Linked DNA regions of Homo sapiens. The protein of the gene in region 1 purifies or fractionates together with the protein of each later gene. This does not show direct contact. Each region holds a gene or a part of one and is shown on either strand. Other genes may lie near its edges.

The links.
Region 2: the proteins of UQCC1 (region 1) and CLSTN3 purify together in Homo sapiens (affinity purification with mass spectrometry; one large-scale study listed by BioGRID and IntAct). This does not show direct contact.
Region 3: the proteins of UQCC1 (region 1) and MIA3 purify together in Homo sapiens (affinity purification with mass spectrometry; one large-scale study listed by BioGRID and IntAct). This does not show direct contact.
Region 4: the proteins of UQCC1 (region 1) and MAN2B2 purify together in Homo sapiens (affinity purification with mass spectrometry; one large-scale study listed by BioGRID and IntAct). This does not show direct contact.

What each region holds. Positions count from the first base shown.
Region 1 is NC_000020.11:35,345,974-35,349,473, forward strand, and holds part of UQCC1 (ubiquinol-cytochrome c reductase complex assembly factor 1), read right to left. Parts: intron 1,300-3,500; coding exon 1,191-1,299; intron 1-1,190. UniProt on the Homo sapiens protein: Required for the assembly of the ubiquinol-cytochrome c reductase complex (mitochondrial respiratory chain complex III or cytochrome b-c1 complex). Involved in cytochrome b translation and/or stability.
Region 2 is NC_000012.12:7,156,908-7,159,445, reverse strand, and holds the end of CLSTN3 (calsyntenin-3 precursor), read right to left. Parts: intron 1,958-2,538; coding exon 1,755-1,957; intron 1,506-1,754; coding exon 1,365-1,505; 3' UTR 501-1,364; downstream 1-500. UniProt on the Homo sapiens protein: Postsynaptic adhesion molecule that binds to presynaptic neurexins to mediate both excitatory and inhibitory synapse formation.
Region 3 is NC_000001.11:222,628,097-222,631,596, forward strand, and holds part of MIA3 (transport and Golgi organization protein 1 homolog isoform 1 precursor), read left to right. Parts: coding exon 1-2,293; intron 2,294-3,500.
Region 4 is NC_000004.12:6,609,689-6,613,188, reverse strand, and holds part of MAN2B2 (epididymis-specific alpha-mannosidase isoform 1 precursor), read right to left. Parts: intron 3,392-3,500; coding exon 3,139-3,391; intron 2,310-3,138; coding exon 2,199-2,309; intron 2,104-2,198; coding exon 1,911-2,103; intron 1-1,910.

The sequences.
Region 1 (3,500 bases):
AAAAGAAGATACTAGTGGGAGGTGAAGCCAGCTGGGCTTCTGGGTCGGGTGGATACTTGCACCAATCAGTGCTCTGTGTCTAGCTAGAGGATTGTAAATGCACCAATCAGCATTCTGTAAAAACGCACCAATCAGCGCTCTGTGTCTAGCTACAGGATTGTAAATGCACCAATCAGCACTCTGTAAAAACGCACCAATCAGCACTCTGTAAAATGGACCAATCAGCAGACATGGGCAGGGACAAATAAGGGAATAAAAGCTGGCCACCCTAGCCAGCAGTGGCAACCCGCTCAGGTCCCCCTTCCACACTGTGGAAGCTTTGTTCTTTCGGTCTTCACCATAAATCTTGCTGCTGCTCACTCTTTGGGTCCGCACCACCTTTAAGAGCTGGTAACACTTGCTGTGAAGGTCTGCGGCTTCATTCTTGAAGTCAGCGAGACCACGAACCCACTGGAAGGAAGAAACTCCGGACACACCATCTTTAAGAGCTGTAACACTCACAGCGAAGGTCTGCGGCTTCATTCTTGAAGTCGCGAGACCAAGAACCCACCACAAGGAACCAACTCCGGACACACTATGATCTGTATAACCAGCTATATTCTAGTGTTTTGGTTTCATTTTTCTATTGTCATTACATCCCATGTGACATATATATATATATAATATATTCCCCTTTCTCAGGTTAATTATTAAATGTACTAATGTACATTTTCAGGAGGTATCTTACCAGACTCTTCTAGGTTGCCAGTGATCAAGGAGCTTGAGTTTCAGTTCCTGAAGACAGTGCAGGCCCCATACCAGGGCCTCCCATCAGAACTAATTTATAGAAGGACTGGTTCAAATATTGAACTGGTGTCAAAGGTATAGTATCCTTAACTGGATTATCATTTGATTCCCTCCATTCACCAAATCCATCCCTCCTATCACCACGATTTGGGCTTTACAATCCCATCTCCATACAGGATGACTTCACACTGACAAATCACTATAATGTGTACAAACACATAAAGTATCTGTGGAGTATTAGTTTCCACAGAGGCAGAAAAAGTGACTTTAGCGGAACTGCCACTTGATATTAGGCAGCATTTCACAGAAATCTAAAAGCAGGGCCATTTTACAACAGATAAAACTCCAAACTCAAACCCTTCTCTGGAATTGTCCAGGACAAGCATCTGACAGCACTCACTTACCCCCATGACTCTGCCGCGCTGCTGAACATCCTCCCACATAAAATGAACTATGATACGACACATGTACTTCCCACTCCGGCCTTCCTGCTTCATTCGGACTAGACACATCCTGGGTGGGAAGAAGACAAAAAAAGTCTTGGCTGTTTGCATTTTTCACATCACACATTTCCACTGAAGGTCTCCTCATCTAAGAGTGAGTTTAGCAAAGGGCACCAAATCAAACTGGAAGTGAACTTTTTTTTTTTAAACTTTTACTGAGATATAACAAAGATACTATTAAGTGTATAAATCTTAAGTGTACTGCCTGATAAATTTTTATGTATTATACATACACCCACACAAGCACCACCCAGATCGAGATACAGATTATTTAGGGCACCTCTGAAGGCTCCCTCATACCTGGAGGGAACCACATTTTTTTGTTAGAAGACAAACAAGTCTGAATCCTTCATTTTACTGATGAAAGCAGGAGTCCTAAAGACGGAAAGTAATTTGCCCAACACCAGTTTTATATCCGTAAAACTGGGTATAGAACTGTGCTGTCCAATACAGTGGCTCCCCTGTGGCTATTGAGCATTTTAAATACAGCTAGTCAAAGCTGAGATGTGGCACAAGTTTAAGATTTCAAAGATTTAGTTGAAGAAAAAGAATATAAAATATCTCAATTTTTAATACTGCTTTCATGTTGAAATAATATTTCAGATATACTGGGTTACATACAATCTATTAAAATTTGTTTCTTTTTACTTTTTCAAATGTAGATACTAGAAAATTTTAAATTACATACATGGCTTGCGTTATATTTCTGTTGGACAACACCTGTCCAGAACACAGATCACAGAAAGTATTATGATTACATTTGTGTAATTATCCAATTGTTTCCCCCACTAGAAGGTAAGCTCTACTGAAGATAAAGATCAAATCTGGTTTTTGTCAACATTTTATTTCCAGGGCTTAAGTACAGTAGGCACTCAATATACACTTGCTGAATAAATAAATGAACAAACACCTATGGTTAGGGCCAAGTTTAGGACCTTTTCCCCTATACCACATTTGCCTCTAGTCAGTCCAGAGGGCTTTCTGAATAATCAAGACCTCACATAATCTAAACATACAAGAATTATATTTTATTATATATAGGAATATAAGCAGGGTCCCCAACTTTTCAAACTAGTTCCTCATTTCATGCATGACCATAGTTCATTCTTTTTTGTTTTGTTTTGTTTTGTTTTGTTTTGTTTTTTGAGACGGAGTCTCGCTCTGTCACCCAGGCTGGAGTGCAGTGGCGCCATCTCGGCTCACTACAAGCTCTGCCTCCCGGGTTCTTGCCATTCTCCTGCTTCAGCCTCCCAAGCAGCTGGGACTACAGGCGCCTGCCACCACACCCAGCTAATGTTTTTGTATTTTTAATAGATATGGGGTTTCACTGTGTTAGCCAGGATGGTCTCAATCTCCTGACCTGTGATCCACCCGCCTCAGCCTCCCAAAGTGCTTGTTTTCTCCTTTTTGAGACAGGGTCTCATTCTGTCACCCAGGCCGGAATGCAGTGGCACAAACACAGCTCACTGTAGCCTCAACCTCCCGGGCTTAAGGGAGCCTCCTGCCTCAGCCTCCTGTGTAGCTGAGATTACAGGTGTGCACCACCACGCCCAGCTAATTTTTTATTTTTTTGTAGAGACGGGGGTCTCAATTTGCTGTGCAAGCAGATCTCAAACTCCTGGGCTCAAGACTTCCTCCCACTTTAGCCTCCCGAAGTGTGGGGATTACAGGTGTGAGGCACCATGCCTGGCAGACTATAATTTTTATTGTTTCTCATTAAATAGCTTATTAAGCAGCTACAATAGGATTACTCACCTAAAAGACAATTCCTGTTATAATTATGGAATAGTTAATCCAACCTGACAATTCTATATCCATACACAATTGATCTTGCCAATTAAAATCTACCAGCAATAGTAATGGTACAATGAAATGATTACAGCTTGGCCTGTCTCAACATCTTTGTTAATAACTAAGATGGAGAAAAGAAAACATATTTACCAAATTTGCAGGTGACAAGAAGCTGGGCAGGAGAACAAATGTGCCAGATGATCCAACCATGAACCAAAAATACTTCAACAGGTTGAATCTAACAAGATCAACCTAATGGGGATAAATTCAGGATCCTGCATTTGAGTCTAAAAGAACAACTGTAAAAGTACAGCACAGATAAGTCATGCCTACCTATGTGTGAAAAGACTTATAGGCTTAAGTTGATATTATGTGCTCAGTAGGAATCAAGAGGATAACAATGCTGCCCTCCAAATTAAT
Region 2 (2,538 bases), on another chromosome or scaffold:
TAAGCAGCCATGTGAGGCAGCCACAAGGACATGGGCAAGGCAGGCAGACATCCCCTGGGTCTGAGCCTTGGCTAGCAGGAAAGGGTCAGCCTGGGAACAGTCTCCAGATCCCTTTGGTACAAACAGCAGGGTTGCCTGCCTTCTCCCTGGGGCCGCCCAGCAGGGAGCCCATGTGCACAGGCAAAATGTTCCAAGTTGTGGGGCGGGGTTGGCAGCACCCCTGCAAGGCACTGGGCATCTGCCCAGGTGTCCATAGCATTCCCTGAATCTTCTGTACTTTTCCAGGGGGTGCTGAAGGAAGGGAGGCGTGGGAACCATCTGCCCCCAGCTTACTTTCCAGGTGATCTGGCATCCTGGGGACTTACCTGGTCAGGCCCCCAAGATCACCAGCCCTGCCCACCTCACTTCAGCTCTGTGCAGAGACCCAAACAGCCCCTGAGGCCCCAGAGCCTCCACCACACCCACACAGGACCAGGCAGTCAGGAGGCGCCTCACAGAGCTTTTTTTTTTTTTCTGATTGTTTTATTTGAAAACCCTAGGATATGTCCCCTCCCTCACCACACCCAACCCCCCGCCCCTGCCCCAGGACATGACGATGCCTCACACACACACACACACACACATACACACAAGGCCGTGAGCTGCACGCAGGAACATGGGCTGCACTCACGACAACATTGAAAAAATATACATTATATATGTACACCCGGGGCCCCCACGTCCCCTCCCGTCCCCGCAGCCTGGCCACACCAGGTCACGGAGGAGGGGCCGGGGCTGCAGGACCTCAGGACTGCAAGGGCAGGAAGGGAAACAGGACAAGAAAGGAAGGAAGTTGGAAAGGAGGGAGAAATGGGGTCCCCAGACTGAAATGGAAATGAGGTGGGGCGATCATAAGAGAAGCAGGGACGATGGTCCAGCTGAGGGAGCCCTGCAGAGGGGGAAAAGCTTCCCATGGACAGGAGAGAGAAGGGAAGGGGAGAGGAGAGGGTTTCCTTCAATCCCACCCCCAGCCCCAGCCCCAGCCATTGCAATCGTCACCCTCTCCCCAACACAGTGAGTGCTAAGGGGGCAGCTGCCATTGGGGGTAGAAAGGCAGCTGAAGTCCAGCCCACTTTCCAACCCAGCCAGCCCCAGTGCAAGGGGCACACCAGGAGCATGACAGCCCAGAAGTGAGGGATGGGGGGCCGGGGGAGGGGCAGGGCGGACTCCAGAGGGCCCGCTGGGGTTTTGAAATGAAAGGAGGACTGGTTCTGAAGCCTCTCTCCCTCTTGGTCTCTGTGTTCCCAGAAAGTCCTTCTCCCATGTCTGGAGTGTCTGTTTCACCAGGGCAGAATTCCCCCTCTGCGTGGGGAGAGGTGTAGGCCTTAGTAGCGGTGTGGGGGGGTCTCGATGATGCGTCTCTCGTCGCTGCTGGGGGAATCGGCCACCTCCGAGTCACTGCTGTCCTCATCCTCCTGCTGGCCCCCAACAGCCCCCGTCACACAGGACTGCCGATTCTGGTAGGACTGGAGGGCAGGAACAGAGAGGAGAAGGGATCAATGGCCTGCACACATCCCAGCCTCTCTTTCAGGGACCACACTTCCCTCGGTCCCCTTAACCCCTGTGTACCCCCTTCCCTGCCTGAACCTCTCTCCCTCCGGCTCACTGCAGCTCTGCGAACAGCCTCCACCCAGGCCTGCCCCTCCTCAGGAGTCCTCACCGTGTGTGCTCCACAGTCTTGACCCTACAGAACCCCGCTTCCCCAGGCCTCTCACCTCCATGGGGTTCACAATGATGGTGAGAGCTGAGTCATCCCAGAAGAGGTCTGGGTCCTTGGGGTCACTGGAGGCCCCTGGAGGCCCGCCGGCCCCTGAGACGCGGCGGTGAAGGGAATGGATGCGCACCAGGCCCAGGACGACCATGAGCACCAGGAAGCCCACGCACACCACAATGATGAGGGTTGCGGCGCTGGGTATCACTGCAGAGAGAGCGCGGGGGTGAGCAGAGCGTGACTAGGCACACCTGGGGGCACTTGGACAGGGGGCTGGGTAGGAAAAGAGGCAGCCCGGGCTGAAGGACTCCCAGGGCAGAACACACGGTGGCCGAGAAGAGAGGAACACCTGGAGAAGCCAGAAGAGAAACAGCCCACCAGGAAGGGCAGGAGACGAAAGGGGAGGAAGGGAGCTGCTGCAAGGCAAAGGAACAAACACAGAGGGAGGCAGGTGTACAGAGAGGCAAGGGCAGAGGAGGAAAAAGACTCCCTGCCCAACACTGTCATGAACAGCCCTATTCGCAGAGGACAGAGGGCAAGGACTGGAATCTGCCCCTGTCATTCCACCTGTGCCTTCCCCAGAGACCACTCAGCCTAGGAAAGAGGTGCCAGTGCCCAGTGAGGGAGAGGAGGGGCCCCCACACGGGCTTGGCTGAGCAGGAGGAGATGCAGGCTCCAGGCCTGGGCTGGCTGCAGGAAGAGGGCACTAGCACCTGAGGCTGGGGACAAGTCCAAGGGGCACAGAGCAGCCCCTTCCCTTACCCACCTGGACTGAGCTCACTCCGTGA
Region 3 (3,500 bases), on another chromosome or scaffold:
ACCAGACTCGTTACTTCATTAGAAGATGATTTTGATGAGGAATTGGATACTGAGTATTATGCAGTTGGAAAGGAAGATGAGGAGAACCAAGAAGACTTTGATGAGTTGCCATTACTTACCTTTACAGATGGGGAAGATATGAAAACTCCAGCAAAGTCTGGCGTTGAGAAATATCCAACAGATAAAGAGCAGAATTCAAATGAAGAGGACAAGGTTCAGCTAACTGTGCCCCCTGGCATCAAAAATGATGATAAAAATATACTAACAACCTGGGGGGACACTATCTTCTCTATTGTCACAGGAGGTGAAGAAACAAGAGATACGATGGATTTAGAGAGCTCTAGTTCAGAGGAAGAAAAAGAAGATGATGATGATGCATTAGTCCCAGATAGCAAACAGGGGAAACCACAGTCAGCAACAGATTATAGTGACCCTGACAATGTAGATGATGGTCTTTTTATTGTAGACATTCCTAAAACAAATAATGACAAAGAAGTAAACGCAGAACATCACATTAAAGGAAAAGGGAGGGGAGTTCAGGAATCCAAGAGGGGCCTGGTACAAGATAAGACAGAATTAGAGGATGAAAATCAAGAAGGCATGACTGTGCACAGTTCTGTTCACAGCAATAACCTCAACTCTATGCCAGCTGCTGAAAAGGGTAAAGACACATTAAAATCAGCTTATGATGATACAGAAAATGACCTAAAAGGAGCAGCTATTCATATCTCAAAAGGAATGCTCCACGAAGAAAAGCCTGGAGAGCAGATTTTGGAAGGTGGCTCAGAGAGTGAATCTGCACAGAAAGCTGCAGGGAATCAAATGAATGACAGAAAGATTCAACAGGAATCCCTGGGTAGTGCACCACTCATGGGAGATGACCACCCTAACGCATCCAGAGACAGTGTGGAGGGAGACGCTTTGGTAAATGGGGCCAAACTGCACACGCTTTCAGTGGAGCATCAACGTGAGGAATTGAAAGAGGAATTAGTTCTTAAAACTCAAAACCAACCTAGATTCTCCTCTCCAGATGAGATTGATTTGCCCAGAGAACTGGAAGACGAGGTTCCCATTCTGGGAAGAAATCTTCCCTGGCAACAAGAAAGAGATGTGGCTGCCACAGCCAGTAAGCAAATGAGTGAGAAGATAAGGCTCTCTGAGGGAGAAGCCAAAGAGGACTCCTTGGATGAAGAGTTTTTTCATCACAAGGCAATGCAGGGCACAGAGGTAGGACAGACAGACCAAACTGACAGCACAGGAGGACCAGCTTTCCTTTCTAAAGTAGAAGAGGATGATTATCCCTCTGAAGAACTACTAGAGGATGAAAACGCTATAAATGCAAAACGGTCTAAAGAAAAAAACCCTGGGAATCAGGGCAGGCAGTTTGATGTTAATCTGCAAGTCCCTGACAGAGCAGTTTTAGGGACCATTCATCCAGATCCAGAAATTGAAGAAAGCAAGCAAGAAACTAGTATGATTTTGGATAGCGAAAAAACAAGTGAGACTGCTGCCAAAGGGGTCAACACAGGAGGCAGGGAACCAAATACAATGGTGGAAAAAGAACGCCCTCTGGCAGATAAGAAAGCACAGAGACCATTTGAACGAAGTGACTTTTCTGACAGCATAAAAATTCAGACTCCAGAATTAGGTGAAGTGTTTCAGAATAAAGATTCTGATTATCTGAAGAACGACAACCCTGAGGAACATCTGAAGACCTCAGGGCTTGCAGGGGAGCCTGAGGGAGAACTCTCAAAAGAGGACCATGAGAACACAGAGAAGTACATGGGCACAGAAAGCCAGGGGTCTGCTGCTGCAGAACCTGAAGATGACTCGTTCCACTGGACTCCACATACAAGTGTAGAGCCAGGGCATAGTGACAAGAGGGAGGACTTACTTATCATAAGCAGCTTCTTTAAAGAACAACAGTCTTTGCAGCGGTTCCAGAAGTACTTTAATGTCCATGAGCTGGAAGCCTTGCTACAAGAAATGTCATCAAAACTGAAGTCAGCGCAGCAGGAGAGCCTGCCCTATAATATGGAAAAAGTCCTAGATAAGGTCTTCCGTGCTTCTGAGTCACAAATTCTGAGCATAGCAGAAAAAATGCTTGATACTCGTGTGGCTGAAAATAGAGATCTGGGAATGAACGAAAATAACATATTTGAAGAGGCTGCAGTGCTTGATGACATTCAAGACCTCATCTATTTTGTCAGGTACAAGCACTCCACAGCAGAGGAGACAGCCACACTGGTGATGGCACCACCTCTAGAGGAAGGCTTGGGTGGAGCAATGGAAGGTGAGATGCCTATGGCCTTGTAGAACAGGGCTGGAGAAGCAGGTGGGTGGGTCGCTGAGGTGCCTCCTATCTTGTGAAGCTCTGTTCAGTTTCCAATGTGCCTAAAGGAGAGGGACAACACAGGGAGGTCCACATGTTCCTTCCTGCCATCTTTCTTTTAGGCTGGAGCATGGAGAAGAATTTCTTGCCGTTTCCCTTAGAATAGTTGAGACTGGTTAGCATTTTCAAAAGGAAACTTTGTAAAAAGCTAAAGAGAAAGATATAAACCAGAAAGTAATATACAAAATACAAATGTCATGTAAAATTATGAAAGGGTTTTATTGAACACAATTTTTCAGTCGTCAGATAACTGCTCTGTAACCATGGATTGACTGGTATAACTTTTAGATCAATGCCTTGGCTAAATTCCTACGTTCTCCCCAATTTTATCTTTTGTGGATGGCTTGTTCTTCCTGTTTCTTGGGAGCACTTACTCCAGTTAAACCCTCCTGGGCCGTAAGGTTCTTGCATGCAGATTAATCAAGATTGGGACAGGGATGCCTTCGAATGCAGTGCTTGATGCGTGGAAGCCATTCAGTTGAATTAACCCCGAGCCAATATCCTGACATAAGCATTCTGATTCCTAGTTCCTTGTTCTATTCTCTGCATCCAGGCTTTTCTCTTTCTTTTCTTTTCTTTTCTTTCCCTTTGCCCACCTGCCCTTCCTTCCTTCCTTCCTCTTTCTTTTTTTCTTTTCTTTTTTTTTTTCTTAAGACAGGCTCTCACCCTGTCACCCAGGCTGGAGTACAGTGGCATGATCATAACTCATTGCAGCCTCCAACTCCTAGGCCCAAGCGAACCTCCCATCTCAGCCTCCTAAGTGGCTAGGACTACAGGCATGCATCACTGTGCCCAAATAATTTTTATTTATTGTAGAGACAGGGTCTTGGTATGTTGCCCAGGTTGATCTTGAACTCTTGGCCTCAAGTGACCCTCCTACTTTGGCCTCCCAAAGTACTGGGATTACAGGTGTGAGCTACCGCACCTGGTATATCCAGGCTTTTCAGACAGATGTATCTGAATTGAGAGTACCAAGGGGACAGGAAGCCACAGGAAAACGTATTACTCCAGAGTGCTAATTTTTCCTAAGAAATGGGGGAGGAGAACTTTTTTGCATTTAATTAAAACATATATTTTGGATAAGAAGGCAATATTCAGATGAATTTTC
Region 4 (3,500 bases), on another chromosome or scaffold:
CTGGAGCTACCATCTTCTTACAATACCCCAGGCCATGCTGATTGGTCCAGGCATGGGCCACCTGACCCCAGTAGGACCAATCAGAATCTTTCCCTAGGACTTTTGCACTTGGAACTGGAAAGTCCAAGTCTTAGGTCCTTTTGAGTGGGGAAGACAGAGCTGCTCTTTGAGAGCAGCCCCAGAGCTGTTCAGAGTCACATCCCAGGTGGGAGGTGAAGGAAAGTCTGCAGACAGAGAGAAGTGCAGGTGAGAGACGAACAAGGACAGCCTCACGAGGGCTCCAGGCCCTGAGGCCCAATTACACCCTGCCCTTCCCTTGGTTATGTGGGCCTCACCATACACTCTCCCTGGGGGCTCAGCTAGTTCAAGTTGGGTTTCCGTTACTTGCAACCAACAGAGACCAGAGTGAGGCCAGGTGGGATGGAGCTGACAACAGCCATGGGGCTTTCTCAGACATGGCCTCATCTCCCTTTGCAGGAAAAGCCCCAGCTACACAGAAGGAACCACTGACTGGTCTGGGAGCAGAACCTGACCCTGCTAGGCCAATCAGATTTCCTCTTCTGGGAATCTGAAGCAAGGGAACCAGAGGTGGCTCAATGGCCGTCCTGGGAGACATGGCTGTGAGCCTCTGCTCCTGATATGCCTAGAGCTGCCCTGCCCCATGCCTGTCTGGACCTTGTATCCAGCTCCTCCTTAGATTCCATGAGCTTCTCCAGGCTCTGCCCAAATAGCTGCCCCTTCAGGCTCTGTTACTTCCAAAGAACCTTAATTGACACCCCCTGGACCTGATCCCTGACCTCCTCCCAGCTGTGGTCTCACACTCCTCTACACCCACGAAACACCAGGCCCTCTATGGCATGGCTCCTTCTCCACCCTGAATCCTGGCTCTATACGAGCATGCCTCCCCTGTCCAACAGCCCAGGAAAACTCTCCTGGGTCCGGGCTGCTCTTCTGCATCTCCAGTGTATGGCACAGGCACACTGCAAGTGCTCAGTATATGCTTGTTGCATGGGTGAGTGACAGCCTGCCTGCTGGCTACTGCCCTGGGTTCTGGCTCTAAAACCAAAGCAGGGAGAACCTTAAAAGCACATGCTAATCAAAACCTCCATAGGTGAGTAGAAAAAGAAAAGAGTTTAAGGATTAGTGAGAATGGCAGCAAATTGTATCTAGGTCTTGCAGCTCCAAAAGACCATCTTTAAATGTAATCATTGTTTAATGTTTCTCATGTTCTGCTACTTTATAGAGACACAGAACTACATGGTTGTTGATCTGATCTACAGAAGCTCAGTGGAGGTACAGAATAAGTCCTTTAGGTTAGACTATAGATTAGAAAGACCCCCACCTGGTGACAGCACACCTAGATTCAGACCCAACTTGTCTTTTATTTTTACTTTTGAGACAGAGTCTCGCTTTGCCACCCAGGCTGGGGTGCAACGGTGCAATCTCAGCTCCCTGCAACCTCTGCCTCCCGGGTTCAAGCGATTCTCCTGCCTCAGTCTCCCGTGTAGCTGGCATTACAGGATTACAGGCATGCGCCACCATGCCCAGCTAACAAACCAGTCTTTTAAATGCTAAGCCTCCAGACCTAAAGTGACATGGTGACATAATGTCATATTAAGAAAGGAAAAGATACATCAGAGAAGAAAATGGAGAAGATACAGGGAAGAGGCATATGGTGAAATGGGTGAGTCCCAGCTCTGTACCTCCTAGTTGTATGACCTTAAGTGAGCCACTGTTTGCCCTCAGTTTGCCCATCTGTTAAATGAGGGGCTTGGGCTAGAGGTCCCTGAGGTCGCTTCCTGCCCAAAAGCTGCCCAGAGTCATGAGGGCACAGGCCCCTCCCAAGGCCCGCCCTGGCCTGGCTGGTGCTGAGGCAGTGATGATGTTACTCTGAAAGGGTGCCCCTTTACCAGCGAGGTCTCCGAACAGCACCACGGGCCTGTGCTGCAGCGCCAGTGCGCTCCTCTGGCGCAGGGCAGTGGTGAGGGACCAGGATCCCAGCAGAAGCCAGAGCACTGGGTGGACGACTGAGGTGTCGTTCAGCGTGAGGTTGTAGCCCAGGTCCCAGTCGAAGTTGTTCCACAGCCGCCGGTGGAGCATGACCTGCGGGAAGGCATTGTCCGAGAGGCCCGGCTTGCACCTGGGCATGCCTGTAGGGGGCCGCGAGGGGCTGCTGTAGGACAGACCGTGCCTCCTACCTCCACCTGCCCATTCCCTTGGCTGGAGATGCCATGTGCCCGCTCCGACAGCAACACAAGCCTGCTTTTGCCATCCTCCATGAAGGCCGACTGAACCATGGGGTAGTAATTCTGCAGACAGAAACATCGCCAGGTGGGCGATTGGGGCAAAGGGCAAGGTAGGTCAGGCATCACCCTCTGGCCACCCCAGCTGGTGCTCCCCATAGGCACAGCAGCAGCATGGGGCTGGGACCCTGACTTTGGAGACCAACAGACTGGGGTTCAGACACCAGCTCTGTGGCTTCCTAGCATACAGCTCAGCTGACATGGGTGCAGGCCCTGGCCAAGCCCTGGCCACGCATCATCTCATGGATCCTCAGAATGACCCTTTGATGAAGGAGCCATTTTACAGGAGAGGAAACCGAGGCACAAGCCAAGGCACATACTATTCTTGTCTGTGGTAGCACCAGAATTCAGACACCAGTCTGACTCACAGCCTGCACGCTCAAGCCCTGAACGGGCAGATACACAGGCTTTAAAAGAATTCTCTCTGGAGGCCGGGCGCGGTGGCTCACACCTGTAATCCCAGCACTTTGGGAGGCTGAGGCGGGTGGATCATCTGAGGTCAGGCGTTCAAGACCAGCCTGGCCATCATTGTGAAACCCCATCTCTACTAAAAATATAAAAATTAGCTGGGCATGGTGGCAGGCGGCTGTAATCCCAGCTACTCGGGAGGCTGAGGCAGGAGAATCGCTTGAACCTGGGAGGCAGAGGTTGCAGTGAGCCAAGATCGCTCCATTGCGCCCCAGCCTGGGTGACAGAGTGAGACTCCATCTTAAAAAAAAGGAAAAAAACATTCTCACTGGAGGCCTCTACTGGCCTCTACTGCTGCAATTTGATGCTTAATGGGTCCAGGAAAGGCGCCATTGGGAGCGTGCCTTGTGGGCATTGCAGGACATACCCGGGCGATGCTGTTGTTCACATAGGAAACGTAGGGCCTCCGCTGCATCTGGTAGCCGTTGTTGTCTGAGTAGATGACCTGCTGGCTGTTTAGGTTGGTGCTGGTCCTCAGGACAGCCTCACGGTTCAGCTCCAGGGGGCCGGCTTGGTACTCCTGCTCTATCCGGTGGCAGAGCAGCTCCCCGTCATGGCCCTGCGGCACATGGGTGAGCCGGGAGCGGATTGCATACGTGTAATTCTGTGCTGTCATGTTCCTGGAGGAGAAGGGAGCATCAGTAAGTGAAGCTCCAGGAACCTTCTAGATGCTTCCTTTTTGCTTCCCTTCCTTCATGTGGGCAGGGTGGGCAGGGCAGGGTACGCCGA